Linked DNA regions of Homo sapiens. The protein of the gene in region 4 interacts with the protein of the main gene of each other region in a pairwise test. Each region holds a gene or a part of one and is shown on either strand. Other genes may lie near its edges. The genes, in order: PLSCR4, PROP1, PEF1 and CFAP68.

Region 1 (8,011 bases), on a different chromosome or scaffold from region 4:
AAACATAGAGTTTCATTATGGTTAATACAGTTAACCATGTCCTCTAGTAATTTCTTTCTAGGTATATACCTAAGAGAAATGAAAATAAATGCCTTCACAAAAACATGTTCATAATAGCATTACACATAATAGCCAACAAATAGAAACAATTCAAATATCCATCAATCGGTAAACTGATCAATTTTTAAATATCCCTACAATGAAATATGACTCAGCCATACAAAGTAATTTTGTATGGCTATACATGCTATATCCTGGATGAACCTTGAAAACATTACACTACTAGAAAGAAGTCAGTCACCAAAAAAACCATATAGTACATGATTCTACTGATGTGAACTATCCAGAATAGGCAAGTTTATAAAGGCATAAAGTAGATTTGTGGCTTCAAGAAGATGGGAAATGACTGTTATTGGGCATGGGTTTCTTTTTGGAATTATGAAATTATTCTAACATTAGATTGTGGTGATAGCTTCACAACTCTGAATATACTAAAAATCACTCAACTGTACACTTTGAATGGGTGAATTTTATGGTATGTGAATTATGTCTCAACAAAGTCATTACAGAGAAAAAGAAAGCTGGAGTGGTTATACTAATATCTCACAAGTAGATTTCAGAGCAAAGAAAATTACCAGAGATAAGAAGGGCTATCACTTAAAAGTAAGAGACAATTTCTTAACAAGATACAGCAATCCTAAGCATGACTGATCCTAACAATGGAGCTTCAAAATACATGAAGGAAAAACTGGCAAAATTGAAAAAAATAAAGAGAAATCCACAGTTACAGTTGAGGACTTTTACACTCCATTCTTAGTAATCTACAAGAACAAGCAGAGGAAAAATCAGCAATGATATTGGCACAACTAGACAGCATCATCAACCAACACTGACATTTGTAGGACACCCACCCAACAGCATTAGAATAACCATTATTTTCAACGTACGGAACATTCACCCAGACAGACCACATTCTGGCTCATAAAACAAATCTTAAAATATTACAAAAAAATTAAAATAATACAGCTTGTTCTCCGACCATAATGTAATGAGCTAGGAATTACTAACCGCAAGATAACAGGAAATTCTCTAACCACATAAAAATAAAACAACACATTTCTACGTAATCTAAATCATAACCTGATAAATTAAATTGGGCCTAAAGCTGCCTCTGTAAATAGCAGACTGCAACTTGATTTGAGGTTGTATTCTTGTAACAAGTAGCTGAGTCTCAGCCAATGATGGTAGTGGAGCTTCAGCCAATCACGGGCTGTCAACTGATCAGACCATGTCCGTTGAAGGCAAATGCCTCATCACACCATGACCAAATAAAGCAAATACCAGGCTGGATCCAATCAACTGATTTATGTACGTCACTTCTTTCCTCTGTTTATGAATACTGCCTGCCCATGTTGCTCGGTGGAGCTCTCTGAAACTCTTCTGGTTCTGAGGGCTGCCTGATTCATGAATCGTTTTTCGCTCAGATAAACTCTGCTGAATTTGCCTAAAGTTTTTCTTTTAAGAGTTTCACATGAGAAGTCAGATCTTGAAGCAAACTTCCAGTGATCCCAGGAGCACTGAGTGACCAAGTTAAGGTACCCAGCATGCCCAGTGTACTCACTGCTCTTTCGCAGCAACTGGGGTCATGGGTGAGATTTTTGAATCTAAGCTTCATGAACTTCTGATTTGAGCTGAGTTTGAGCATTTTTGATCTACACTGGGTTTCAAAGTCATGCCAACAACAGGACTGGGCCCAGTAGGGAGGCCTCAGGTATTTGACTGGGTCAGACATAAACTCAACTCAGTTAGTAGGTAGGAAAGGTTAATAAAAGACATAGAATCATGGGTTTATCTGGTCAAAGGTTGCTAGAGCTTCGCCCTCTGGAATTCTAGCCAACTTCATGTATAAAAACCAGAGACCCAGAACCTGTGCTTTTCGAGACGAATGGGAGAACCTTAGCAAAAGTAACTTAGAATGGCTACAGTGGGAAAATTCCTTACGAAAGGCAAACAGGTTTATGTCTTTACAGTTGTAAAGGCTACAGGGCCCAAGAGGATCCCAAAATAAAGAACCCTATGCCCCAAGATGTCTGCCTTTATGGTAAACACTCATGCAACTGGAAAATACATTGTCCACTTTTATATTAGCCATCTAATGGATCCACTACCTTTTGTCTGAACTATTTCTCCACCAGAGAAAGCCCCCAAAGGCTTTAATCCCAAAACAGTAACCCATCAATCTCTCAGGGAGGAAAAACAAATTCTGTGGTGGGGGTTTCAAATCAAACCTGGAAAGTTCCTAATTGACACTTGGACCATTTTCAGAAAAAAAATTTGTAAGAATTAGTTCTGTTATCTGTATTTCATCCTGCTTCTTCCATGGGGATCTCTCAATTGACTGAAACCCCTCTTCTCAAACTCCTGCTAACAATATGCTCTACCAACTGTATACATCTTTTTTTTTATTATACTTTAAGTTTTAGGGTACATGTGCACAACATGCAGGTTTGTTACATATATACATCTCTTTCTTATCATCATGATCCTGACTATGCTCCAAAACTCTTGAAAAACAAAAAAATAGAAAGCAAAACAAAAACTGTGTTGTCATTTATTCTTGAAAACAAAGAAATGAACAAAAAGGATGAACCAATCTCTAACTTTAAGAAAAGATTATAATATTCATGCAGAGTTCGGGCACATAAAATGCTGTATAGACTAAGCAACCCTAATCCAAAAGTCCAAAATCTGAAATGCTCAAAAATCCAAAACTTTCAGCACCAACATGATGTCACAAGTGAAAGATGATGAGGACACTGTTAAAACTGCAAAGTGCCTATAGATGACATGGTGAAAATATGTGATGGGTTTACTGAAGGACTCTAAGAGCATTCATTCATCACAGAATAAGAAATTGTGTCAGTCTGTAAAATCAACAGAGACTTCTAAGACAAAAACCATTGTTAATGAGACAGCGGACTCCAGAGGAAACATTCTGAAAAGTCATCCATCAGAATGCTTCCTCATTTGTAGAGAAAACACTTGCTGGTCACTTGGCTACTTCTGATATTTCTTCTCACTTAAAATAATAAAATTCAGTGAATGATAACCTTGTAATCAAAATACAGCATTGTAGGTAAAGAATGAAAGCCTGCCATTGCTTATTGGTGGCTTTCCGACACAGGCATTCTGGAGATACTACTGTGCTGCTTAGTTACCCTGAACGCATTCTCTTTTCACTGTACTAATGATACATCCTATTTTTTACTGTTAAGCACTTATTTGTGAGTAATGTAAGAAAATGATTACTTATCAGTAGCATAATGAATTTAGAGTCAGGAATGATGGTGACGTCAAATAACCACAGATTGTCCACATGGGTGATTGAGATACTGATACCTTTGCTTTCTGATGGTTCAACGTACGTAAACGTTTCATACACAACATTATCAAAAATATTGTATAAAATTATCTTCAGGCTATATGTTTAAAACATAATGGAACATGAATTTCATGTTTACTTGGGTCCCATTCTCAAGATACCTCATTATGTACATGCATGCCTTGTTTTACTGTGCTTTGCTATACTGTGATTCACAGATACTCCATTTTTTTAAACAAATTGAGGGTTTGTGGCATCCTTGTATCAAGGAGTCTATCAGTGCCATTTTGCAGAACAGCAACTTCTCAGTTTGTCTCTTTGTCAAATTTTGGTAATTCTCACAATATTTCAGACTTTTTCATAACAATCTGTTATGGTGATCTATGATCAGTGATCTTTGATGTTACTATTATAATTGTTTTGGGACCCCATGAACCATGCCTATATAAGATGGTGAACTTAGTAAGTGTTGTTGTGACTGCTCCACAGAGCAACTATTCTCCCATCTCTCCCCTTATTCTAGGACCTCCCTATTCCCTGAGACAAAACAATATTGAAATTAGGCCAATTAATAAGCCTACAAATGCCTCTAAATATTCAAGTGAAAAGAAGGTTCGTGCATCTCTCACTTTAAGTCAAAAAGCTGGAAAAGATTAAGCTTAATGAGGAAGGCATGCTGAAAGCAAAGACAGGCCAAAAGCTAGGCCTAGATTCCTCTGATGAATCTAGGCAACGTAAATTGAAAACTTTCTAAAAAGGATTCACCATTTTAGATACCACTAAGAACTTTTGTTATTCATGGGAGGAAGTCAAAATATAAATATTAACAGGAGCTTGGAAGAAGTTGATTCCAACCCTCCTGGATGATTTTGCGTGGTTCAAGACTTCATTGGATGAAGTACCTGCAGATGTGAGAGAATAGCAAGAGAACTAAGAGTTAGAAGTGAAGCATGAAGATGTTACCGAATTGTTGCAGTCTCATGATAAAGCTTAAAAGGATCATTGCTTCTATGGATAAGGAAAGAAAATGGAAGCCATTTCCCAGATGATTTTAATATATCCCCTCCTGGCCCCAACACACACCCCCTCAGTTACAGATCTATGAAATTTTACCCCATTCAGATAAAAACCTATCTGCTGTAGGAATCATAATACATTCAATCAAATGTTCAGTTTACCAATATAAGACATATCTATTTTTTCTCAAATCTCATTTGTAAACCCAAGTAAATTTCCTCTATACCAAATTCAAAATAAATCCAAAATATGCCATATAATATTTTTAAGTGATACATTCTCATTTTCACAGAAGGAATGCAAAACGAAAATAGTAGTGATTGTAAACTACATAAATATCAAGCACAATTGTTAAGTAAACACATTATCATGAAACATTATGATAAAATAATTTTCCTTTAAAAATATAGTAACAGTTTTGTAAAAATCATTAAATGTTTACATTCAAATGTTAAACATATAATCTGGATAATTATAATGATAGCAATGTTTTTAAAAAATATGGAAACTGGAGGAAACATGCTAAGATATAAACATTTCCTCTTTAAATTTTCTACAATAAATGTATAATAAATTATATAAACTGAGTTTTTAAAATAATTTTTAAAACCTGACAATGTACTCTCTTGTAGTGAATCTGTAACTAAAAAGACCTGCATGTTCATCAAAGAGGAAATATTATGCACACCTTTCCAAGTACAATCCTCTTTATAGACTTTAAGCCAAATTTCTTGGCTCCTATGGTGGACTGTGTTAATTACTTTTATGGGTTTCTTGGCTATAGGGAACTGGATAGTTCAGTGGGCTCAATATGAGTGGATTAAAGTCCAATGACTGAAGGATTCAGTCATTTCTGTAGACATCTTGTAAACTTAGTAAGTTTCTGTCACATGGGCTGAAATTAGAGAAACGAATTCCAGGCTTGCACAAAAGATAAACCTAGGTCCATGTTGATAAAATATGCTGCAGCAGGAATGTCCCATAGATACACAGTATCTTCATTATAATTACATGTTAACATATATGTATTTAATTGTATCTTTGCATAAAATCAATTCTAGAAGAAACTTAGGGAGTGATTAATGTTCAACAAATTACAAGGGCAAAACCTAAGATTTTTATTGTGTTGTTTTTATAACCTATATCAATATATTTATTATTTTATTAACATCATGACTCCTTCAAAAGAAAAAGTGTATGGTAGAATATTTCATTCTTTTTAGCAAGTGTGAAGGATCTTGGAGGTTAGCTATTTGGCTTTAATATAAAATAAAAGATAAGATTAAATGAAAGCAAATTGATAGCCACAGTCCATACATAACCTTTATTAAATATATTAATTTAGTTCAAATTGTTTAAAGAGAATATCAGGTGTCTCCTTTTTAGCTTTCAAAAGGGAAATGTTTTTGTTATTTAGAGTAGAAAAATATCAGAACAATATTCTCATGATGTTTATATAAGACATTAAGGAAACATTACCATGCCAACTATGATTACCAAGAACGCCTCATTGTGTCATTTTACAGCTAGTCTTTTAGTATTTAAAATTGTAGTAAAACAAGATGTCATGTTGCATACAGTTAAGTCACTTTGATAAGAAACTTTACATTTATGAAAACAGACTTTTAAAAAACAGATGTTATGTGCAAACAAACACAAATATAATTCAAGGAGTCGGCAGTGCATACATTTACACAATACATTTATACAAAAAAATCCCACCTACTCCAATTCCCATTTCCCATTTGAAAAGGCAACCACAGACATTAGATTTTTTTTCCTCCAATAGATTTTCTAAGCATATATAAACTAATACACACAGTTTTTATAAAATGGCAATCATCTATATACTTTTCTGTGTCTTTTTCTTTTCATTTATTAAAATGTCTTGATGTTAATTACATTTCAGTCCATATAACCTCATTCTTTTTAATGGCTGCAACATAATGTATTTAACTGGCTGCCTAATGACAACAAGTTAAATCGTTTCCAAATTTAGGCTATTACCAAAAATGCTGAAAAAAATATTTTCTTCCTGTGGATCTGTGCATTAAATTATTGGAAGCAGAACTGATGGATCAAAGTTTTGTACATTTTTAAAGATACTATCAAACTGCACTCTAAAGAATTTGAATCAATTTAGACCCCAGACAAAAAGTTACATTCCTAATACAGTATTTTATCAACATTTTTGTAGTAGTCAATCTGATATATAAAAAAAAAAAATTGGTTTTATTTTCCATATATCTCATAATGAGGAGGCTGAGCCACTTTTATTATTTGTTTGAAAGCAATTTGCAACTCTATTTCTGTGAACTGCCTGTTTGTCATTTGTTCATTTTTGTTAGCTTTTCATTTGTCTTCTTTATATGAAAGGTATTAAAATTTTATATTAAAATTATCTTTTCAAAACTTATCATTTGTCTTCACTGCATTTTTGTCATGCAGTTTTATTTTTGAGGCAGGGTCTCTTTCTGTTGCCCATGCTGGAGTGCAGTGGCATGATAATGGCTCACTGCAGCCTTGACCTCCCAGGCTCAATCAATTGTCCTACCTCAGCCTCCTGAGCAGCTGGCACTACAGGTGGGTGCCACCATGCCTGGCTAATTTTTAAATTTTTTTAGAGGTGGGGTATCGCCATGTTTCCCAGGCTGCTCTCAAACTCCTGGGCTAAAACAATCTGCCCACCCCTGCCTCTCAAAGTACTGTGATAACGGGCGTGAGCTACCGCCACCCAGCCTTACCATGCAATTAAAAACAATTTTTTTCCAACTTTAGATGTTTTTCTTTTTAAGGACTAGCATATCTATCTCTTTCATCCTGAAGAATGAGTACTATAAAAATGAATTTTAGCACAATGCTGGTGAACATATGAGTATGAACATTGCTGTATTTTTTGTTTATAAAAGTTAACTGGTTGTGAAATCCCTCAAGCAAAATTCTTCACTGCTGTTCTTGCAATAAACATCATAAACATCAATATTAAGGAAGGGGATTTTAAAGGAAGCAGCTGAAAGAGGACACTTATAAAAGAAAAAAAATGAGACAATATGAAAGGTTTTGTGAAATATATTTCTTCTGTAGTAAATGACAGCTAATATATTCAAGAAGGCAATGTTCTGTATAAATTACTATCACTATCAATTTTTCCTTATACACACGCATACATTATAGAAATGTGTAAAACAACATCACTACTCATAATAATATAATTCGGCTGTGTGTAAAACATCACTACTCACAATATAATTCAGCCTATATTCCAAATTATTTACAAAAATATAATTACTACACTACACACACACAGACACACACACACACACACAGTGTTTCAACTTGTTGTTTCATTTTGTGTTTTAACTTTATGTTTTGGACATATTTCCAAGTTAGAACATTTAGAGCTACAATGTTTTAAACTGTATATTATTCCACCTTTGAATATACCATACATTATGTAACCAATTCCCAATCAATGGCTACAGAGCTGTATCCATGTTTTCTACATTGTAAACAATCCTACTTTAAACATCTTTGACAGAGATTTTTATTTGTACACTTGGGAGCATGTTTTGCTGGATAAATTCCAGTTAAGTAAATGAACATTTGTAAATC
Region 2 (8,269 bases), on a different chromosome or scaffold from region 4:
CATGTGCCCTTTTCTAACACTCGGGGCAAGTAAGAAGTGTCAGCTTCCACCAAGGAGATAAATATGGTGACAATGACATTTCCCTTCCCCAGAGAATGGGAAATTTCCCCTAGGGTTAAGTTTAACGATTAAGACTGTAGATAAATGTAATTGCTATAGACAAGCTTGAATTTAGGGTAGGGTTTACACTTAAGGCTAACCAACCCTGGGGTTAGGATTGAGGGAGCATTTGGCTCATTGAGTTTCAAGGCTATGGTTAGGGACAAGCTTCTGTAAGAATATGGACAGTTAGGATTGAACTTCTGTTGGAATTGGCATCACTATTTTTTTTTTTTTGAGACAAAGTTTTGTTCTTGTTGCCCAGGCTGGAGTGCAGTGGCATGATCTTGGCTCACTGCAACCTCCACCTCCCGGGTTCAAGTGATTCTCCTGCCTCAGCCTCCGGAGTAGCTGGGATTAATTATAGGCACCTGCCACTATGCCTGGCTAATTTTTTGTATTTTTAGCAGAGATGGGGTTTCACCATGTTAACCAGGCTGGTCTCGAACTCTTAACCTCAGGTGATCCATCCAGCTTGGCCTCCCAAAGTGCTGGGATTACAGGTGTGAGCTATTGTGCCCAGCCGGAATTGGCATCACTATTAAATATTGAGGGTAGGTGTTGAAATTCAAGTTAGATTAGCTTATAGCTAGGGTTAAACTCAAGTGATATGATATTCTCAATGCAGTTGCTCTGATGCTGGTGGTGAGATGAGGCCTGTGTCTGGTGACCATTTAGGTTAGGGTTATAATGCCCAACATTCTATGATAGCACCAAAGAAATCTGCATTTCTTTCCTGAGAGAGGAGGATCCTGGAGCATCACCTGGATTCGGGCCTCACTGAGGCCAGTGTCCCGGGCAAGACTCTCTCGGGCCCAGATGTCGGGGTACTGGTTCCTCCCAAAGGCTGACTCCAGCTGTTCCAACTGCACTGGGCTGAAGGTGGTGCGGTGGCGGCGCCGGGAGTGCGGGCGGCCCCTCTGTCCTCCTTGCGGGGAGAACCTTGATCTCCCCCCTCCTGCACCAGGGAGCCTTCTGCAGGGTGGAGCACTCGAGTCTGAGAACGGAGAGAAGGGAGGGGCGGCTTCTGAGGAGGACGCTCCTCGGTGCTGGACCACATGTGCCTGTCCCGGGATTGCGCTCAGTGCGTCCTGTGCTGCTCCAGTCTTTTTTTGAGACAGAGTCTTGCTCTGTCTCCCAGACTGGAGTGCAGTGGTGTGATCACAGCTCACTGCAGCCTCGAACCCCTGGGCTCCAGTGATCCTACTGCCTTAGCCTCCTGAGTAGCTGGGACTACAGGTGCACACCAACATACCCAGCTAATTAAAAAAATAAAAAATTAGAGATGGGGTCTTGCTATCTTGCCCAGGCTGGTCTCAAACTCCTGGCCTCAAGCAGTCCTCCCATGTCAGCCTCTCAAAGTGCTGGGATTATAGGCCTGAGCCACCGCACCCAGCCCTGCCCCACCGGGAATCTTTTAGCTGCCATAGCCTGGTTCCTGCACCCTGCTCAGCCTCGGCCCCTGGTTGCCTCTGAGTCTCTGACACCAGGCTGTGCTGTCTACACAGGGCACACCCTCAGACTCATTCCTGGCCCTGGCACTCATGCACTGTCTACCTGGCAACTCTACTGTCTGCCCACTTCCTATTGCACTGCCAGACACATACCCCTCCATGTACGTTCACCCTTCTGGACACACACGACCACCTGGGGCTCACCCTGTGGGTCTGCTGTGTGCACCTGCACCCTAACAATCGTCCCAGCTGTCTACGGAAGACCCTAGTGCTTGTCCCCTGCTGGCGAGGCTCCTGTTCAACCTGTGCCTTCTTCAGACTGCTGCCATCTCCCGCACCCCTCACCTGGGAAGATGGGCACCCCCCTCTTCCGCTCAGACACACCCTCCCCTACTTACTTTTCATCTCCTCCCTACCCCTGCCCTGGCCCAGCCACCAGGCTGCAGGAACTTGAGCTCGTGGGAAAGGCTTGCCTTCCTCCCCACAGGCTCCCTAAGCCCCCACACTAATTAGTCTGAGAGCTGTTGGGGAGGAGAGAACGGGGAGGGAAAGGACACACCTGGAAGGCGCACACCAAGAAAAGATGTCTGGAGCCGAGGCACCATCCCCATGGGGCCCAAGGGCGTGGACCCTCCTAGAGCTCACTGTCCACCATGGGGGACACACACACGGAGCCCGCCCTCCCGCCCTGGACCCAAAGCCCTGGCCCCTCCAGCTCCCTTCATCAGAGAAGGCAGTGGCTTGGGCTAACCAACTCTGAGGTCAGGAGTGAGGGGACAGAGGTAACTGTCTCACATCCCCACTGCAATGTGAGCTGTTCAGCCGCCCCCTCCTGCCAAGGGCTCAGTTCCCCAGTCTGTAAAGCCAAGGGGTGCTCCAGTCCCTTTTACTTTCAAAGGTTCCCACAGTTTTAACATGATAGGATTCGGGTTTTAATTTCTCCTCCTAACCTTCTTCATGGAGCCTATGCTTTCAGCCTCACACCCGCTGCCTCCTCAGGGACCCACGCACACCGGGACGGTCACTCACCCACCGTGGTGGTCGGGGTCCCAGTGGCCGGGTGTCTCTCAGGCAACAGGTTGCTGCCGACTCGCCCCTTCTTTGGCTTCTCAGCCTGGCGCCTCCTTTCTGCTTCCATGGCTCGCCACGGGGACCAAGTGTCCCTGAATCTCTGACTTGAGATTTCTCTGCTTCCGCAGCTCCTCTCCACACCTGTTCCCTCCCCTTCTCCCTCTGTGTATGCCACCCTCTGGGACTCTGTCTCTGAATGTGTGTGTAGGTGCAGGCAGCTGTCTCTGACTTTTTCACTGTCTTTACTTTTTTTCTAATTGTTTCCTAATTCCCCCTTCCTTGGCTTGAGTGTCAGCTCAATCTCCTGCCTCAGCCTCACCTGTTGCTCTGTTTCTGACTACTTTTCTCTGCCTGGCCCTTCTCCCCACCGGGATGCTGCTCCCTTCTGTCAGCTGCCTACTTTCCCATCCCACCCCTGAGTCTTGGAGGAGTGACCTCCTCCTCGCCCCTGTGGGCCCATCCAATCACTACACGGTCACCAGAGCCCCCTTGCTCAGGGAGGATCACAAGCCGGATGAGGGAAGGTGTTCTGTCGGAGGGTCCAGGGACTGGGGCCAAGGGCTCGTATTCCCAGAGGACCGGATTCTTTTGTCCTGTTAAATCCCCTCCTGGGAGCAGGCAGGGGGAGGAGGAGAAAATGCATTCCTCCCGAGACCCCCTCCTCACAACCCCACTGTGGGGAGAGGAACGAAGAGCAGGGGAAAGGGACCCAGGAGTGGAGCCTGCCTGGCGTCTCAGCATGGGGGTGACACTCAAGGATCTGCTTCCAGGAAACTAAAAAAGGAGAAGTCACAAGTGCATGCTGGCCCCTCTCAGATACCCTGATAGTTCAGAACACACCAGCCAGTGCTCAGGCCAACCTGAACCCACTCCGGAGAATGGGCCTCCAGGACACCTTAGCTCTCAAGTACTTTCTGATTTCCTCCCTCAAACACCACTTCCTCATTCACCCAGAACCCCCAGGACACCATGACCTTCCAAGGTCACCCAGACTCTCCGAAAACCCTGACCTGAACATCTGCATTCCAGCTGCATCCTGACCCCCAAACCCACTCCAGACTCCAGGACTTGGAAAGAGACTGAGATTCCCGTGACATACTACATTCTGATTCTTCAAGAAAATCCTGACACCGGGAATCTCTGAGCAGTCAGGACAGCCTGGTCCCACAGTACTCTGCCCCTTGAGGTTACTTAGACCTGGGAAGTACATTCTGACATCCCCAGGACACTCTGACAGTTTAAGGATGATGCAACAGCCCAGGACCTTAGGATCCCCTGGGACACGCTGACACCCAGAACACTTCACCTCTGCTTCTCAGGATACACTGACCCAGTGAGAACACATGGACCCCCTGGAACACACTGTACCCACAGGACAGTCTGATTCCCAGGGTCATGCCGTCATACAGGTCCTTTAAAAACACGCTGGTGATTCAAGACAGGAAATCAGAATCCTTTAGGATTTCGATGCTTACCGTGTGGTCCATGGATCAGCAGCAGCAGCAGCACCAGCAATGGGAGCATGTTGGAAATGCAGATCCCTGGGCCCCACCTCCATTCTACTGAGTCACAATCTGCCTTGTATCAAGATCTCCAGGAGAACCGAGTGCACGTGGGTCTTAGTCAGCTGGGGCTGCCATGACAAAATAGCATAGACTGTGTGGTTTAAACAATAGACTTCTATTGCTCACAGTTCTGGAGGCTGGGAAGTCTAAGATCAAGGGGTCCGCCTATTTGGCTCCCCTGTGAGGGCTCTCTTCCTGGCTTGCAGGTGGCTGCCTTCTCTCGGTGCCTTCATATGGTGGAGAAAGAACCAGCTCTGGTTTCTTTTCCTCTGCTTGTAAGGACACTAATCCCATCATGGGGCCTCACCCTCATGAGCTCATCTAAACCTAATCACCTCCCCAAATCCCCACCTTCAAATACCATCACGTTGGGTGTTAGGACTTCAACGTAGAAATTTTGGAGGGACACAAACGTTTAGTCCATAGCAACGTAAAATTGGGAAACACTGCTCTAATTTTAACCCTTCTCCCCTACCCTAGGACACACTTTGACCTCCTGGAGCACCCTGAACCCCATGGCAGTCCTAACCTAGCAAGACCCAGTGACATGCAGTCAGCTTGGACTCACAAGAGAACACTGAATTACAATGCATCCTGCTGCCTGGGGTACCCATTCTGGCCCTGTCAGGTCCTTGAATGCTGAGGGCACTGAGGATGCATTCACTCTCCAGGACACACAGACCCTCCAAGAGGCTCTGACCTCTGTACCTTACACTCAGCACAACATCTTGGGCTCACAATCACTCTGTGACCCTCTAAGTCACCCAGACCATGAGGACATGGTGAGATTTGGGAAATTCTAACCTTTTAAGGAATTCCTGACCTTACAGAATCTAGACCGTCAAGGGCATCTTGTCTTCCTGCCTGTTCAGAGCCCCCAATTTGCTTGAATCTTGCAAAGTGCTGTTGACACTGAAAAACCACTCAACATGCCAACCCCAACCCAGGAAATACCCTGACCACACTAGCCTGATCCATAGGATATTTTGACGAAGAAAAGACATATCCAGGTCTCCCAAAGCACTCTGACCATCCAACATGCCTTTGACACAGGGGATGTCTTAATGCCAGGGCTCTCCAACCTTCCAGTGTACTCTGGTTGTCTCAGCCCTAGAGTTGTCAGTAGGCACCCTAGTCACTGTCACTCTCCCACTCTCCCAATACACAGACAGCCCAGCACAGCTTCAACACACTAGGACCCCCTGAATCCAAAAGGTGATTATTCTAACTCTTGAGATTCTGTCCTCTCAAGGCAACTATTCCCTGCAAGACCCTCTGTAGAATACACATTCCCAGAACTACCGGAACATCTTCACCTCTACCATACTCTCACCCCTCTGTAGAATACACATCCCAGAACTGCCAGGACACCTTCACTCTGCCATACTGTCACCCCTCTGTAGAATACACATTCCCAGAACTGCCAGGACATCTTCACTTCTGCCATACTCTCACCCCTCTGTAGAATACACATCCCAGAACTGCCAGGACACCTTCATTCTGCCATACTCTCACCCCTCTGTAGAATACACATCCCAGAACTGCCAGGACACCTCCACTCTGCCATACTCTCACCCCTCTGTAGAATACACATCCCAGAACTGCCAGGACACCTTCACTTCTGCCATACTCTCACCCCTCTGTAGAATACACATCCCAGAACTGCCAGGACACCTTCACTCTGCCATACTCTCACCCGTCTGTAGAATACACATCCCAGAACTGCCAGGACACCTTCACTCTGCCATACTCTCACCCGTCTGTAGAATACACATCCCAGAACTGCCAGGACACCTTCACTCTGCCATACTCTCACCCGTCTGTAGAATACACATCCCAGAACTGCCAGGACACCTTCACTCTGCCATACTCTCACCCCTGCCTAGCACACTGTGCTCATCCAGGACCCTCTGATTTCCTGAAAATGCTTTGATTGCACAAGAATACCTTGGCACTCTACTCCATGACAGATCCATTCAAGTCTACCCAAACCTTCAAGGACCACCTGAGCTCCAGAAAACCTTGATCTCCCGCATTCAAATACCAAAAGTATATGCTGACCTACCTGAAAACCTTCACAGCTCTGGACTCCCAGAACATCCAGGAGCCTCTGAATCACGCAGCCAGACCAACCTCCAAAACATCCTAACTCCATGCAAGTGGTGTGATCTTCCAGGACAGTCTGACCTCGAAGCTGGTGATGTTGTAAGGATACTTCAAGTGTTCTGACATGATGAAAATGCCTGTAGGCCCAGAACACCTGCCTGCCCTGACGCCCTGTCTCTCCAATACCCCTGCCTTCCCAATACCCCTGCCTTCCCAAGATGCTCCAAGTCTCCCAGACTCTCTGACTTTCACCATTAAGATCTCATCTGATCCTATGTGATCTCTTTGGATCCTCTTAACACCCTGTTCCCCAGGGTCCTCTGACCTTTTAAAATCCTACAAGATGCCGGGCACGGTGGCTCACGCCTGTAATCCCAGCACTTTGGGAGGCTGAGGCAGGCAGATAGCTTGAGATCAGGAGTTCAAGACTAGCCTGGCCAACATGGTGAAACCCTGTCTCTACTAAAAATACAAAAACATTAGCCAGGCACAGTGGCACGTGCCTGTAGTCCCAACTATTCAGGAGGCTGAGGCTGGAGAATCGCTTGAACCTGGGAGGCGGAGATTGCAGTGAGCCGAGATCACGCCACTCACTGCACTCCAGCCTGGGCAACAGAGCGAGACTCTGTCAAAAAAAAAATCCTACAATACACTTGGAACCTACATGGGCATGCTTATCATCCAGAAACAAGGCAAACCCACAGGACACTACTCTGACCATACAAGGATGCCCTGAGTCTCCAGTGGATCAGATCTCTATGAGGACACACTGATTCCCCTGAACACCATAAATCCTAGCTTACTTTGAGCATATGAACACCCTACCTTCTAGGTTATTTGACCCTAGAGGATTACGTGTGTGTGTGTGTGTATACGCACATACATATATGTATACACCTTTTTTGAGACAGGGCCTTGCCCTGTCACCCAGGCTGGAGTGCAGTGGTGTCATCATAACACACTGCAGCCTCAAACTCCTGGACTCAAGTGATTCTTTCACCTCAGCCTCCTGAATGGCTGGGACTACAGGTGCGCACCACCATATCCAGCTAATTTTTGTATGTTTTTGTACAGACACAGTCTCACTACAATGCCCAGAGGAATATCTTACTGTACCAAGTGACTCTGATTCCTAGAGCATTTTAGCCATCCAAAGTTACTTAGACCTTCCAGTGCCTCTGACACCTCAGGAAACTCCACCCCCATCCGGACACCCTCCCTATCTAGTCCACTGTGATGCTGCAGAAAAGTTATTGAATAGTAAAGAAATTCTGTGGGAAGAGTGTCCCTTAAGGATACTCTGATCCTAGAAGAACATCCTGCAAGTCGGGTTGTCTGAATTCAAATTCTAGAACCAGCCCTTGCTTGCTGTGTGACCACAGCAAGCAATTTCATCACTTTAAGCCTTACCTTCCTCATTCGCAAAATGAGCACAATACTAGAACTTTCCTTCTGTGTTTGAGCAGGTATGAAGAATGCCCTATGAAGACTCTATCAAAGAAAGGAATTCAAGTTTTTGTTTAGCTCATCTGTTCAGAAAAGACAATGTAAAGATACTAGTATATTGAACAAAAGGAAATATATAAGACATACGAGTAGAATGACGTCCTAAAAGGCTAAGGTTTACACCTTAGCAAAAAGAAGAGAATAAGAATAGGCTCATAGTAAATAATTCATCACATCAACCAATAAAAAACCATATGATTATCTAGCATTTGATAAAACTCAACACTTATTCTTTTTTTTTTTTTTTTTTTTTGAGATAGGGTCTCAGTCTGTTGCCCAGGCTAGAGTGCAGTGGCACAGTCTGGGCTCACTGCAACTTCTGCCTCCTGGGTTCAAGTGATTTGCCTCCCTCAGCCTCCTGAGTAGCTGGGACTACAGGTGCCTGCCACCAGACCCGGCTAATTTTTGTATTTTTAGTAAAGACAGGGTTTCACCATGTTGGCCAGGCTAGTCTCAAACTCCTGACTT
Region 3 (8,011 bases), on a different chromosome or scaffold from region 4:
TGGAGGACAGAAACCACTGCCTAGTACCAAAGCCCAGTAAGGACAGAGGGAAAAAGGTATGCCTGACTTAGGGATTAGTCTGACTTCCTTGGAAAAATCCGGGCAGGTTCTAGCCATCTTCCTAAAACATCGGTGTCATAGGGGAGCAAGGGCCACAGCCCCAGGGCAGGAGAGATTCTGTGACATGTTTGAACTGTGTAGTTTGTATAGAAGGGCTCAGGCTTTGGAATCAAAGCAGACCTGGATTCAAACCCTGGATCTGATCCTTACTAGCTTGTGTGACTTTAGGCAAAATGTACAATTTTCTGAGTAATGATTTTCACATTTCTAAAATGAACCCATTTCCCCAGAATTGTTGTGATGATTAAATGAGATAACAGCAAAATAAAATCCTCAGCAAAGAGCCTGGAATGTGTGTCTTCTGAGATATTTTCACAGAGAAACGGATATTTAAACTGAGTTTCTCCCCATGGTAGGCTACATTATCGTCTCCTGGCTAATAATCTCTAGCCAGGAGACACAGTCTGCACACCCACAGACATTGTACTAATATGGTACAATGGTTTAAAAGGCCAGTTCAATAATCTATTATTAGATTACTTGCTAATCTCCCCTTCCCTATAAGAGCATTGTACATCCTCTCCCACTGCCTGGTGGCTTGCAGAGGGGCATCCTTTCCCATCCTACTGATGTCAGTCTTGATCAGGGGGTGCTCTGGCCAAAAGAATGCAAGTGGGCAAGACATACAGTACTTCAGAGAAGCTTTAAGAGGCATTGTGCATTCTTGCTAGCTCTCCTGCTCCTTCTCTCTGCCACAAAGATAACATATCCCAAACAGGAGCTGCTCCTTCAGCATGTATCCCTGAATGAAAAAGACACAGGGAACAGAAACTCAACAGCCAGCTAACAGCTGCTGACATGTAAGCAAAAGAAAGTAAGCATGAGCAAGCAATACAAATAAATGCTTGCAACAAAACTAGCTGACAAACTTATCATTTTGAGGATACACACTGAAGCTGGAAGCAAGATGCTAAGGTGCCAGAGACCAGGCTGCCTGCACACCCACAGGAAGGACAAAGGCTGGCCATGGATAACTCAGAACCACGTCAGAGGTACCCGGAGTCCAAGATTACTACTTACCCTGTCCATAAAGCCCAGGCTGCTGGGCACCGTAGGAACTTGGAGGTGGCTGACCATAGGGGCCCCCGGGAGCTGCACCGCCATATGGTCCTCCTGGAGTTCCAGAGGGGAACATCCCAGGATTGGGGTGTCCATAGGGCCCTCCACCAGCTGGTGGTCCATAAGGCCCTCCAGGGGCAGGACCCCCATAACCACCACCAGGGGGTAGCCCACTACCATACTGCCCTCCACTATTGGGGGGTCCAGGGTAGTAGCTACCCGGAGGGGCTCCTGGTGCTTGTCCTGCAGCTCCTGGGCAGCCCTGCAGGAAGAGCAAGATATCAGTCAGAATGATGAGGCCAGAAACTAGGCAGAGTATGGCACTTTACAACCATAAAGCACTTCCACCACCATCCTTTCAACTGATCCTATAGGTAGGGTTGGAATTATGATCTCACTGCTCAGATGGGCAAACTGAGGCTTCCAGAGGAGCAACGAGTTACCCAAAGTCACCCCGCCAATGACCTGCAGAGTCAGGGTTGAAATCCTCCTTTCCTAACTCTCCTTTCCTGCACATCAAGGGGCTCCACAAGGGCTAGGATCCTGTCTGGTTTGTCACTTTATCCCCAGCTCCCAGTGTAGAATGGATACTTGGTAAATATTTCCTGTATGAATGAATAGGCAAATGAATCAAACAGAATTCCAAATGCCCATCCTGTGGTACTCCCATCTCTATCTGCAGAACTCATGGGGCAAACGCAGTCTCTAACACACACCCCTGACCCTCATCAGTCACAAATGACATAGCTATAGCATGGATTCATCCACAGCATGTCTTCCTTACCCTGATGTAAAAACATTTCCCTATCCTCACTCACAACTCTGTGAGGCAGGCAGGGGAGACCCTATTCCTAAGGCAATACGATACAATGCTTTCAAAGGCCAGTTCAACAGCTAGGCGTGGTGGCTCACAGCTGTGTAATCACAGCACTTTGGAAGTCTGAGGCGGGCAGACTGCTTGAGCCCAGGAGTTAGAGACCAGCCTGGGCAACACAGAAAAACAACATCTCTACTAAAAACCTGGGCAACATAGAAAAACTACATCTCTATTTAAAAAATACAAAAATTAGCCAGGTGTGGTGGCGCACACCTATAGTCCCAATGACTCAGGAGGCTAAGGTGGGAGGATCACCTGAGCCTGGGGAGGTCGAGGCTACAGTGAGCCATGATCACACAACTGTACTCCAGCCTGGGTGACAGAGTAAGATCCGATCTCAAAACAAACAAACAAACAAAAAACAACCAGTTCAAGAGTTCAAGTTCAGGTTCTGCCATTTACTAACTGGACTGACTTATCCTCTCTAAGCCTCAACATCTTCTGCTATAAAATGGGAATAATAATAGCTACCTCTCAGGTTAGTTTGTGAATGAAATGAGGCCAGCTATGTGAAGCCCTTTGACATTGGGCCTGACACAAATTAAGCACTCAATAAACACTATTAATAATAGCCTCCTACAGAGGACAAGACTCAAGTCCAGGAAAGTCACACACAGGCTGTGTGGAGGGGCTGGGACCAGAACCTGGGTCTCTTGGCTCTATGTCCAGGGCATTTGTGCATTAGAGCATACATGGGGGCATTCCCTCTCTCATCCATCTTCCCACACCAGTAGCCCTCGGAGTGTTCCGCTCCATCTCCCTAAATGGCTAGCACAGGACCCAGCAGAGCACAGCCCCAACACATCTGCAGACAAGCTGAGCTCAAGGGCACAGACAGCAGCTAGGCCCAGCTCCGAGAACGGCACCATCTAGATACGTTCTAGATCAACCTGTAAGTGCACCAGTGGCCAAGCCACTGAGAGCCTGGGCTTTCTCTTTTTATTGTGTTTGATAGCTTGAAATAATTACTCTTAAGGCTAAGGCCAAATTCATGAGGTTTTTTTGTGGGGAGGGCAGGAAGCAGGCCCTGTCACCCACTCAGCAATCCTTGGGAGCTTTTCTACCCTAGAAGCTGTCATAGCTACTAGCAAGACTCCTTCACAGACAAGAATGGCTCACACAGATCTCAATTTAAAACTCTGCTCCCATCAGCTAAGTTCATGACTGTGGGCCCGTGGCTTCATCTCTCTGAGCCTGCTTCCTCACAAATAGAACAATTCCTTCCTCACTGGACTGTTCTGCAGATTATAAAAAATAAATGCAGCAAAATTCTGTCAGTTTAATTTTTAGCTAAAGAATCCTTTGATAACCAACCTGGGCAACATAGTAAGATCCCACCTCTACAAAAAATTTTTAAAAATCAGCCGGGCATGGTGGTACACATGTAGTCCCTGCTACTCGGGAGGCTAAAGCGGAAGGATCACTTGAGCCTAAGTTGGAGGCTGCAGTGAGCTGTGATTGTGCCACAACACTCCAGCCTGAGTAACAGAGGGAGACCCTGTCTCCAAAAAAAAAAAAAAAAAAAAAAAAGAGAGAGAGAAAGAAAGAATCCTTTGATAAAATAAATAAAACAAATACAAGAAAGTTGCTCTGGCTGAAGTAAGGTGGGAGCTCCAGAGCCCCTACAATATGGAACCCCCTCCCTTGCTACATTCTGAGGGGGCTCTGAAAACCCCTCACAGTGACTGAAAAGACAGTCTGAAAACCACTCACATAAGAAAAATAGTTTTTACAACAGTGCCTGGCATAAAGCAAATGATCAGTAAGTCATAGCTGCTATTGCTATATTAATTACTGTTATCAGCAAAGTCCTGGGCCAGGTGAACTGTGCGGGGTGGGGTATAAAGGAGAGTGAAGCAATCTGAAGGCACTCACAGTTAACAAGACTTAACATGTAGACACTGTGTAACGTCTAACAAAACAGCATAAGGAAAACAGGTGTTTGAAATGGAGACATAAGTCATGTGCCATAGGACTGCAAAGGAAGGAGGGTAAAATCAGGGAGTGTTTCCATGAGAGTGGCATTTGAGCTAGGACTTAGAGAACGAACAGGATTCCCAAGGGGTTGGAGAGGTGTGACAAGAGAAATACCCAGAAGACAAGTCACTTAACCTAACCCCCATTTTACAGATGGGGGAGGGAGGGAGGGACTTGCCCAAGTAATGCTGTGAGCTGGAGGAAGAGACAAGGCTGGACCACTCCCTTGCACCCAATGACTCCCCCTGCCTCCTGCTACAACACTCCTTCATTAAGCAATAGGGCTCAGGATTCCAGCATAGGATGGAAAGGGAGTGGGAACTCTGCAGAATCTGGGCACACCCAAAGAACAGGCCAGACACGAAGCCAGAAGTAGCTGCCCCACTATAAGCCCTGTGAGCAAAGCTATAAACCGCACCTGGCACCTAGGAAAACCCACCTAGGAAACCACCTATAAACCACCTAGGAAACATCCCCAGGCCAACAAAGCAGGTGCTGCCAGGCAGGTCTCCTGCCCTTCTGGCTATTGTAGTCTGGCAGCAATTAAACCCTTTCCTTTCTGTCCTGCATTTGAAGACCTCCTCTGTAGTTTACAAAGTACTTTCACAAACACAAACACTACAGGCAGAATCTTGCCAATGGCCTCCTAACAGAAAAAAGGAAGATGTTAGTTGCCCTCTTTTACAGATGAAGAAACTAAGCCACGGAGCTGTTAAAGGACTTCATTCAGCACGCATTTTCAGAGTGACAATATTGTACTAGGCTCTGTAGTAGATCTGAGGACACAAGTAAATGAAGTCCTGCCCTTAAGGGGCCCACAGATAATTGTGATACAATCTGATCAGTGCCATCAGAAAAATCTACTTATGTGCTATCAAGGAAGCTTAGATGGAGGAATTTGTGCTGTTTGCAGAATGAATAAATGAACAATGTATGAAGTGGGTCAAGGAAAGCTTCCTGGAGGAAGTGGCAGTGATATTGGAAATGGTCCTTGAAGGATGCATAGACATTTTCCAAAAGGCAGGCAGGGAAGGACACTCCAGACAGAAGAGAGAAGAAAGACAAACGCACAGACTTAAGAGTGAGCATAGTGCATTCAGGGAATGAGTTAAACCGCAGAGCCAAGAATGCAGTGTGAACCCAGAAAGGCAGGCCCTCTATACACTCGTTGACCAAGCACCTCTCCCCCTGCATTTCAGTTAGCCGTGAGGTATCAGTGTCTAAGAGTAGTTTCTGTCTAGCATCTCCCCCACCCAACAGTAAGCTCCCCAGGGGCAGACACTGCGCCTCACTCATCATGGCACCCCAGGGCCCAGCACAGTGCCTGGCACCTGCAAGCCTCCACAAATATTTGGACAAATGAACACCACTCTAAAGAGTTTTGTTGGGGCTTTATGCCGGAGAAAACAGAGCACTATAGAAGGGTTTCCAATAGGAGAGGAACGTGATGAGAACCTTGTTTAGAGAAGTAACCAGCGGCGGTGTGGAGGATGAGCCAGTGAGGGAGGCAGTAGCCCAGGTGCTGGGCAGGCAGGGCATGAACCAGACAGCACACTTGGGGATGAAGAGAACGGAATGGATTCTGAAGCTATTTCAGAGATAGACCAGACATGACTTGGTGACTAATTAGATTAGGAAAGAGATGGAGGAGGAGTGAGGAAAGTGTTCAGAATGACTCGGGTTTCTAGCTTTTGCACAAGATGAAGGAGGTGGAGCCAACTGAGACAGAATGCAGGCTGCACAGGAAGTTTGGGGAAGAAGATGAGGTGGTCCCCACCTCACAGAGGGTCACCCAGTGTCACTGAGTTGTTAGCAAAGGTCTGAACCAGAAATGAAAAACAGCATCCCTGACTCCACGTTCTTTTACACTACTCCATGCTCCCAGCCCTTTTTAGAGTTTTTCCAAGAGTTATTTCATACTGATAAACAGGATTGTGAAGGCAGGTGGAGGGGAAGGACAGGAAGAGTTCAGTAACTGCAGCTTCTGAAGCAACACAGAAAAACTATCTCTAGGGCTCTGGCTGATTGCAAATAAGCTACATCTGATGCCCTGGGGGGACTGGGGGCAACAAACATTTACTGAGGCTCTGCTAGGTGCTTCCAGTTCAACCAGCTCTCACTAATCCTCAGTCCTGTGAGGTAAACAGTGTCATCTCCATTTTGCAGATGAGAAAATTAAGGGGCAGAGAGTTTAATAACATGCCTGAGATCATGCAGCTAGAATGGGCAAGTTGGGATTCAAGTCAGGGTCTGCATGACTCTACACTACCCCCTTCTGTTTGTTCACTCAATAAATGAGTGAGTGCCTAGCATGTGTCTGTGTGAGGGACTGTGCTAAATGTCTTTGTCAAATATAATGAATTTCTACTGTGGACAGAGGTAGAGGGGAAGGCTGGATTGGGTGATCTCTCAGAGCCTTCAAGCCCAGAAATCAGGGACTCTTAGAAAAATCTCATTCTTTTTCGTCCCAGCACCTAGAGTCACTTTGAGAGCCAAGCCACATTTTGGAAGACACCCCAAAGACTCTTCAGTTCAACCTCTCAGTTAATAATGGAATCTCTGCAGAACCACCTGGAATCTCTACCTGCACTTGCGCAAGCAGTAGGGAGCTTACCTCCTCCCAAATAACCACCTCAGAAAGTCCGGTATTTTTTTTTTCTTTCCAGTTCTGAGGACTCAAGTCTTCTAACCTCAAGACCCCTGTGAAGCTTAAAGGTATCAACGGCTGTTCCAAGCTGAGCCCTGATGACGAATGGAGGAGGGAGCATTGCAAAGACAAGTTTGTACCCCAGAGCTACCCTTCAAGTGCACAGGAGGAGGTGGGAAGCCCAAACTAAGGGGTTAAACAATCACAGGAAGACAAGAGGAACAGTTCAAGCATTCACCAGCAGAGCCACTTGAAATAGGAGAGAAGCACGCAACCAATAAACAATGAGCCAAGAACCATCCCCAGACTTCAATTACCTCTGTGCTCACACTTTCAAATCTTTCCAGCTTCATCACTCCTGAGCTACAGACCCACATATCCAGCAGCCTACTGGACCTTCCCTCCAAACCCATGCCTCCCTGTGTTCTCATCTCAGTGAATGGAGCTCCGTTCTGCTTAATCATCCAAACCTAAGGCCAAGTTTTCTCAAATCTACCTCCCAAGTGCTTCTCAAATCTCCTCTACCAGGTCACAGTTCTCTTTAGCCTAGATTACCTCAATAGCGTCAAAACCGGTATCCCTGCCTCCTGTCTCTCCTGCTTCAATCCATTCTCACAGCACCCCACAGTAAGCACTCCAAAGCACAAATGGGACAAAACACTTCACTGGCTCCCTCACTACTCTTAGGATGAAGTCACACTCCCCAAAAAGGCATACAAGGCCCTTTGGGATCTGGCCCTTGCTTACCTTTCTAGTCTTATTTCCTACCCCTTTCCCCCACATCACTACAACTACACTGAACTTCTTAAAGTTCCTCCAAAATACTAGGCTGTCTTACCTGCTTCATGGGCTTTGTGCAGCTATTTCCTCTGCTGGAATAGCATTCCTTTCTTCACTCAGCTAATTTCTACCAGTGATTCAGTTGTTGGCTTAAATATCACCTCTTTTAAAAATGCACCCCTAGACTGAGTTAGGTATCTCACTCTCCCGTGCTGTACCTTACACTTACTCCCATTGAATACTTATCACATTGCCTCTTCAATCTGCATAACTGCATTACTCCTCCACTTGGAGTATTCTACATGCCCAACACCATACCTAGCACTTTACGTGGATTTTCTCATTTAATCTTTAGAGTAATTCTGAGGTAGATACTATTATGACCCCATTCTAAAGAAGGGAAAACTAGTCCAGGCGTGGTGGCTCACGCCTGTAATCCCAACACTGTGGGAGGCTGAGGCAGGTGGATCACCTGAGGTTAGGAGTTTGAGACCAGCCTGGCCAACATGGCGAAACCCCGTCTCTACTAAAAATACAAAAAATTAGCCAGG
Region 4 (4,946 bases):
ATGAATAAAACAGATCCTGTCCTTAAGGGGCATACAGCTCTGTATAGGAGATATAATGCAGACTTAAAGAACTCTAATGTATGGTAAAAAGTTATAAATACAGGGAAAGATAAAGTTTTATGTGAGTTGAAAGAGAAGCTAACTTCAGGGAAGGCATCATTTGAGCTAGAAGGAAGGAAATGATCATTTATTACTCATTTATTGTGTTATCTAGTTACTCAACTCTCACTTCTTTTTGTTCTCTTTGACTGTAGCAGTGCTTTTAGTCCCTCAATGCCTACATCTCAAAATTACCTTAAAAATTTAGCTAATTCTCCATATTGTATTGGGAATACTGAAGTTTTTCCTGTCTCTTCACGGGGCCTGGGGAGCGGGGGTGTGGATTTAATCCATGTAGTCACCCACTGTTGCTGATTGAAAGAATGGATCAAAGGGTCCCAGGACTTAGAGAAGAAGAAACAGAACCATAACATAGCCTGGATCATTAGTACGGTGTGCTTGTGTTATACCTGGCTATGTAAAACAAGGGCAGGAAAAGATGCTTTTTCTCTTCTCTGGTTTATGCAATAAGCTTTTCTATTCTTGTCTTTTCCCAGAGACAGAACCTCGCCTGTTTCCTCACAAACCCACACTGTGGCAGCCTTGTTAATGCAGATGGCCATGGTGAAGTGTGGACAGATTGGAATAATATGTCCAAGTTTTTCCAGTATGGATGGCGATGCACCACTAATGAGAATACCTATTCAAACCGTACCCTGATGGGCAACTGGAACCAGGAAAGATATGACCTGAGGAATATCGTGCAGCCCAAACCCTTGCCTTCCCAGGTAATCTAACTTTGTCTTTTTTGTTTGTTTGTTTCCTTCTGTTGGCAAAAGAAATGTAGTGGCCATTTGAAATGCAGGGATGTAATAACTTCTGGTGCAGTGATCTCTCAGTTTTCAGTGAAGTGGTTGGGGCAGAGGAACAGTCCGCAGCTGAACCACCTATGCTACTTTACTGTCAAGTTGAATATTTTATTATCTGTAAGGTTTCAAAAGGAAGGGCAGTCCTCTTTTTCTCTTACTTCTGTTTGGACTTTATCTCTTAGTCTACAGAAATTTATAATGTCTTCTGACTTAGACTAGCTTTTCCCCTGGTCCTTGCCTATCTAGACTTGTCATTTATCTGAGTCTTGCACTTAAATCGCTCCTAAACAAACAAACGTACAAAACATGTGAAAGTTAGAAGGATATAGACTAACACCATAGAACTCAGTCCATCTAAAATATGACAGTCCGTGAGAATTCATGTCATATTGATCTTTATTTCCTGATGTTAGCTGTAGACTTCCAGATTCTTAATCTGTTAATTTTTCTTTCCAGTTTGGACACTACTTTGAAACAACATATGATACAAGCTACAACAACAAAATGCCACTTTCAACACATAGTACGTGGACTGTTTTTTCAAATTCTTACATTTTCAGAACCTAACTCAGTGACCGGCACATAGAAGGAACTCAAATAAAAGTAAACTGAATAGGTGAATAAGTGAGGCTGGGCGCAGTGGCTCACACCTGTAACCCCAGCACTTTGTGAGGCTGAGGCAGGCAGATCACTTGAGGTCAGGAGTTTGAGACCAGCCTGGCCAGCGTGGTGAAACCCCATCTCTACTAAAAAAAATACAAAAATTAGCTGGGCTTGGTGGCGCATGCCTGTAGTCCCAGCTACTCAGGAGGCTGAGGCAGGAGAATCACCTGAACCCGAGAGGTGGAGGTTTCAGTGAGCAGAAATCAAGCCACTGCACTCCTGCCTGGGTGACAGAGTGAGACTCTATCTCAAAAAAAAAAAAGAAAAAAAAGGTGAATAACTACATGAATGAGTAAACAGGATTTTTTCTTCAATTTTAACAGGACTTACTGTCTATTCCCTAGAAATAAGAGCAAGATCAGTTACTAAAACTCCTTAGTGTTGACTGTTTTCATTTGTCTTTCCTTCCTTTTTTTTTCTTCCCTCAGGATTTAAGCGAGAGCCTCACTGGTTCCCAGGACATCAACCTGAACTGGATCCTCCCCGATACAAATGCACAGAAAAGTCAACTTACATGAATAGCTATTCAAAGCCTTAAATTGGGCATCACTCAGGATGTGTATAAGATCTTAATATTGACTAGTTTCACATCCAGGTTTCTAAGAAATGATAAGATACTTCACTTTTCCAGAGTGAAATGTAGGAGGGAGCACATTCTAAGTACAGCTAAAAATTTAGCTCACTGTAACACAGTTTCACTCTCTGAATAAATAAAGCAAAAAACACAGTAAATATTCTTTATCCCTTTTTTTGTTGTTGTTTTAACCAAGATTTAAATGTCAAATTTAATACAGCAACTCAGTTCTACATTTGGGGTGTTGTAGAAGGGCCTTAAAAAGAATTATTTTAGGCCAGGCACGGTGGCTCATGCCTGTAATCCCAGCACTTTGGGAGGCCGAGGCAGGTGGATCACGTGAGGTCAGGAGTTCGAGACCAGCCTGACCAACATGGTGAAACACTGTCTCTACTAAAAACACAAAAATTAGCTGAGCATGGTGGCTCACGCCTGTAATCCCAGCTACTCAGGAGGCTGAGGCAGGGGAATCGCTTGAACCTGAGAAGTGGAGGTTGTGGTGAGCTGAGATCATGCCACTGCACTTTAGCCTGGGTGACAGAGCGAGACTCTGTCTCAAAAAAAAAAAAAAAAAAAGAATTATTTCTCTGAAGTCTACAACCACTGTGGTCTTCCCTTCCTTCTGTCGTAGCAAGACCTCAGAATCTAGCATAACTTAGGCTAGGTTTGGCTAGATGCTTTCTGGGTATAAGCCAGAGTCGTATAGTGCAACTTTGCTGTGACCTTAGTGAACATCCCCTCTTGAGGACTACAAAAACAAACGTAACTTTTTAAAATTATTATGGAGAATTTTACGTAAAACAAAAGTAGACAGGCTAGTCTAATGAACTCCCATGTATCATTACCCAGCATCAACTATTTATGACTAATCTTACCTACTTCTACTTTGTCTTATTGAATTAATTTTGGAGCAGATCTTAGAAATAGAATTTAATCTATAAAAATCTTGGTGGGCTGGGTGCGGTGGCTCATGCCTGTAATCCCAGCACTTTGGGAGGCTGAGGTGGGTGGATCACCTGAGGTCAGGAGTCCAAGACCAGCCTGGCCAATGTGGTGAAACTCCATCTCTTCTAAAAATACAAAAATTAGCTGGTCTTGGTGGCGGGCGCCTGTAATCCCAGCTACTTGGGAGGCTGAGGCAGGAGAATTGCTTGAACCCAGGAAGCAGAGGTTGCAGTGAGCTGAGACGGTGCCATTGCTCTCCAGCCTGGGCGACAAGAGCGAAACTCCGTCTCAAAAAAAAAAAAGAAAAGAAAAAGAAAAAAAAAATCTTGGTATACTGGCTGGGCACAGTGGCTCACACCTAATCCCAGCACTTTGGGAGGCTGAGGCAGGAGGATAGCTTGAGGCTGGGAGTTCAAAACCAGCCTGGGCAACATAGCAAGACCCCATCTCTACCAAAAAAAATTTTTTTAAAGATTTCAGTATATTTCTCAAAAAGATAAGGACTGTCAATTGTCTACTCCCCCCCAACAAAGGTCACTAAGGAAACCTGTTGACTAAACAAAGCTCATTAAACCTATTGTAGTGTAGCAAAGGAGACCATCAACTTGACACAGAGTCTTGGTAATGATTCAAAGGGAGGATGTTAGAGTAAGGTATTTATAAGGATTTGAGATAAGGGTCCAACTGGTTTAAAATGAGTCAAAATAGGGAACTAGTAGAGACTGAGAAAGGGTTGTGAATAGCTTAGGTTTGGTAAACTTAGGAAATCAACAGTCTTAATTTTAATATGGTTAAACTGATTAGTATTTCCTATTTTTTTATCTACTGTGTAAGAAGACACTATAATATATGGGCATTACTGAGAGATACTGCCCATATGTTGTCCTCGTAAGCAAGGAGATATTTTTTATCTCCCATATATTACCTCTCAAACCTTTGTTACTTTAGTTTCGAGATATAGATCCAGAATTTATGTTGTTACTCAGTAGTGAGGAAGTTTCTTTTTTTTTTCTAAATGGCTATCAAGTTGTCCCACCATTAGTTATTGAAAAGACCATAATTTTTTCACTCCTATTCAATGCCATTTTTATTGTAAATAAACTATGTACATGTAGGTCTGTTTCTGGGCTACTATGTTCTATTAGTTTAATTGTCATTCCTTGTATTATCTTAGTTATGATGCCTTAATTGCACCATCTTAATTATGATAATTTTATTACATTATTATTATTTTATATCTTAATACCTAATAGATCAAATGCTTTCGTCTTGTTTTCTTCAAGAATATTAGCTATGTTTGAACTTTTGCATTTCCATATAAAATTTAGAATCAGCTTGCTCCATAAAATGACACTGTTAGGATATTGATTGAAACGGTATTGCATCATTAGGTCAGTTTTAGAATTTGAGTTCTCATTAATTCTAATAATTTATTTGTATGTTCTTACAATACAAATATTGTTTTATAGACACATATTTTAAGTTTACATATCGTATGTCTTATTCTATTTCCTATGTATCTAGCACATTTTTAAAATTGAGGTAAAATATACATAACATGGCTGGGCGCAGTGGCTCATGCCTGTACTCCCAACACTTTGGGAGGCCGAGGCTGGCGGATCACTTGAGGTCACGAGTTTGAGAGCAGTCTGGCCAATGTGGTGAAACTTTGTCTCTACTAAAAATACAAAAATTAGCTGGGCGTGGTGGCAGGCACCTGTAATCCCAGCTACTCCAGAGGCTGAGGCAGGAGAATCTCTTGAACCCAGGAGGCAGAGGTTGTAGTGAGTCAGTATCATGCTATTGCACTCCAGCCTGGGCGACAGAGCGAGACTGTCTCAAAAAAAAAAACCTAT

What was found.
Region 1: the proteins of CFAP68 (region 4) and PLSCR4 interact in binary tests that used the Homo sapiens proteins (3 or more experiments, as listed by UniProt).
Region 2: the proteins of CFAP68 (region 4) and PROP1 interact in binary tests that used the Homo sapiens proteins (3 or more experiments, as listed by UniProt).
Region 3: the proteins of CFAP68 (region 4) and PEF1 interact in binary tests that used the Homo sapiens proteins (3 or more experiments, as listed by UniProt).

Annotation. Positions count from the first base shown.
Region 1 is NC_000003.12:146,240,784-146,248,794, forward strand, and holds part of PLSCR4 (phospholipid scramblase 4), read right to left. Parts: intron 1-8,011. UniProt on the Homo sapiens protein: Catalyzes metal ion-induced ATP-independent rapid bidirectional and non-specific movement of phospholipids (lipid scrambling or lipid flip-flop) between the inner and outer leaflet of the plasma membrane and participates in the redistribution of phospholipids between membrane leaflets.
Region 2 is NC_000005.10:177,993,243-178,001,511, forward strand, and holds the start of PROP1 (homeobox protein prophet of Pit-1), read right to left. Parts: upstream 3,001-8,269; 5' UTR 2,692-3,000; coding exon 2,583-2,691; intron 1,097-2,582; coding exon 864-1,096; intron 1-863. UniProt on the Homo sapiens protein: Possibly involved in the ontogenesis of pituitary gonadotropes, as well as somatotropes, lactotropes and caudomedial thyrotropes.
Region 3 is NC_000001.11:31,634,082-31,642,092, forward strand, and holds part of PEF1 (peflin), read right to left. Parts: exon of another isoform or gene 7,528-8,011; coding exon of another isoform or gene 7,519-7,527; intron 1,442-7,518; coding exon 1,141-1,441; intron 863-1,140; coding exon of another isoform or gene 765-862; exon of another isoform or gene 585-764; intron 412-584; exon of another isoform or gene 1-411. UniProt on the Homo sapiens protein: Calcium-binding protein that acts as an adapter that bridges unrelated proteins or stabilizes weak protein-protein complexes in response to calcium.
Region 4 is NC_000011.10:111,881,772-111,886,717, forward strand, and holds the end of CFAP68 (cilia- and flagella-associated protein 68), read left to right. Parts: intron 1-596; coding exon 597-827; intron 828-1,364; coding exon 1,365-1,431; intron 1,432-1,999; coding exon 2,000-2,109; 3' UTR 2,110-4,204; downstream 4,205-4,946. UniProt on the Homo sapiens protein: Microtubule inner protein (MIP) part of the dynein-decorated doublet microtubules (DMTs) in cilia axoneme, which is required for motile cilia beating.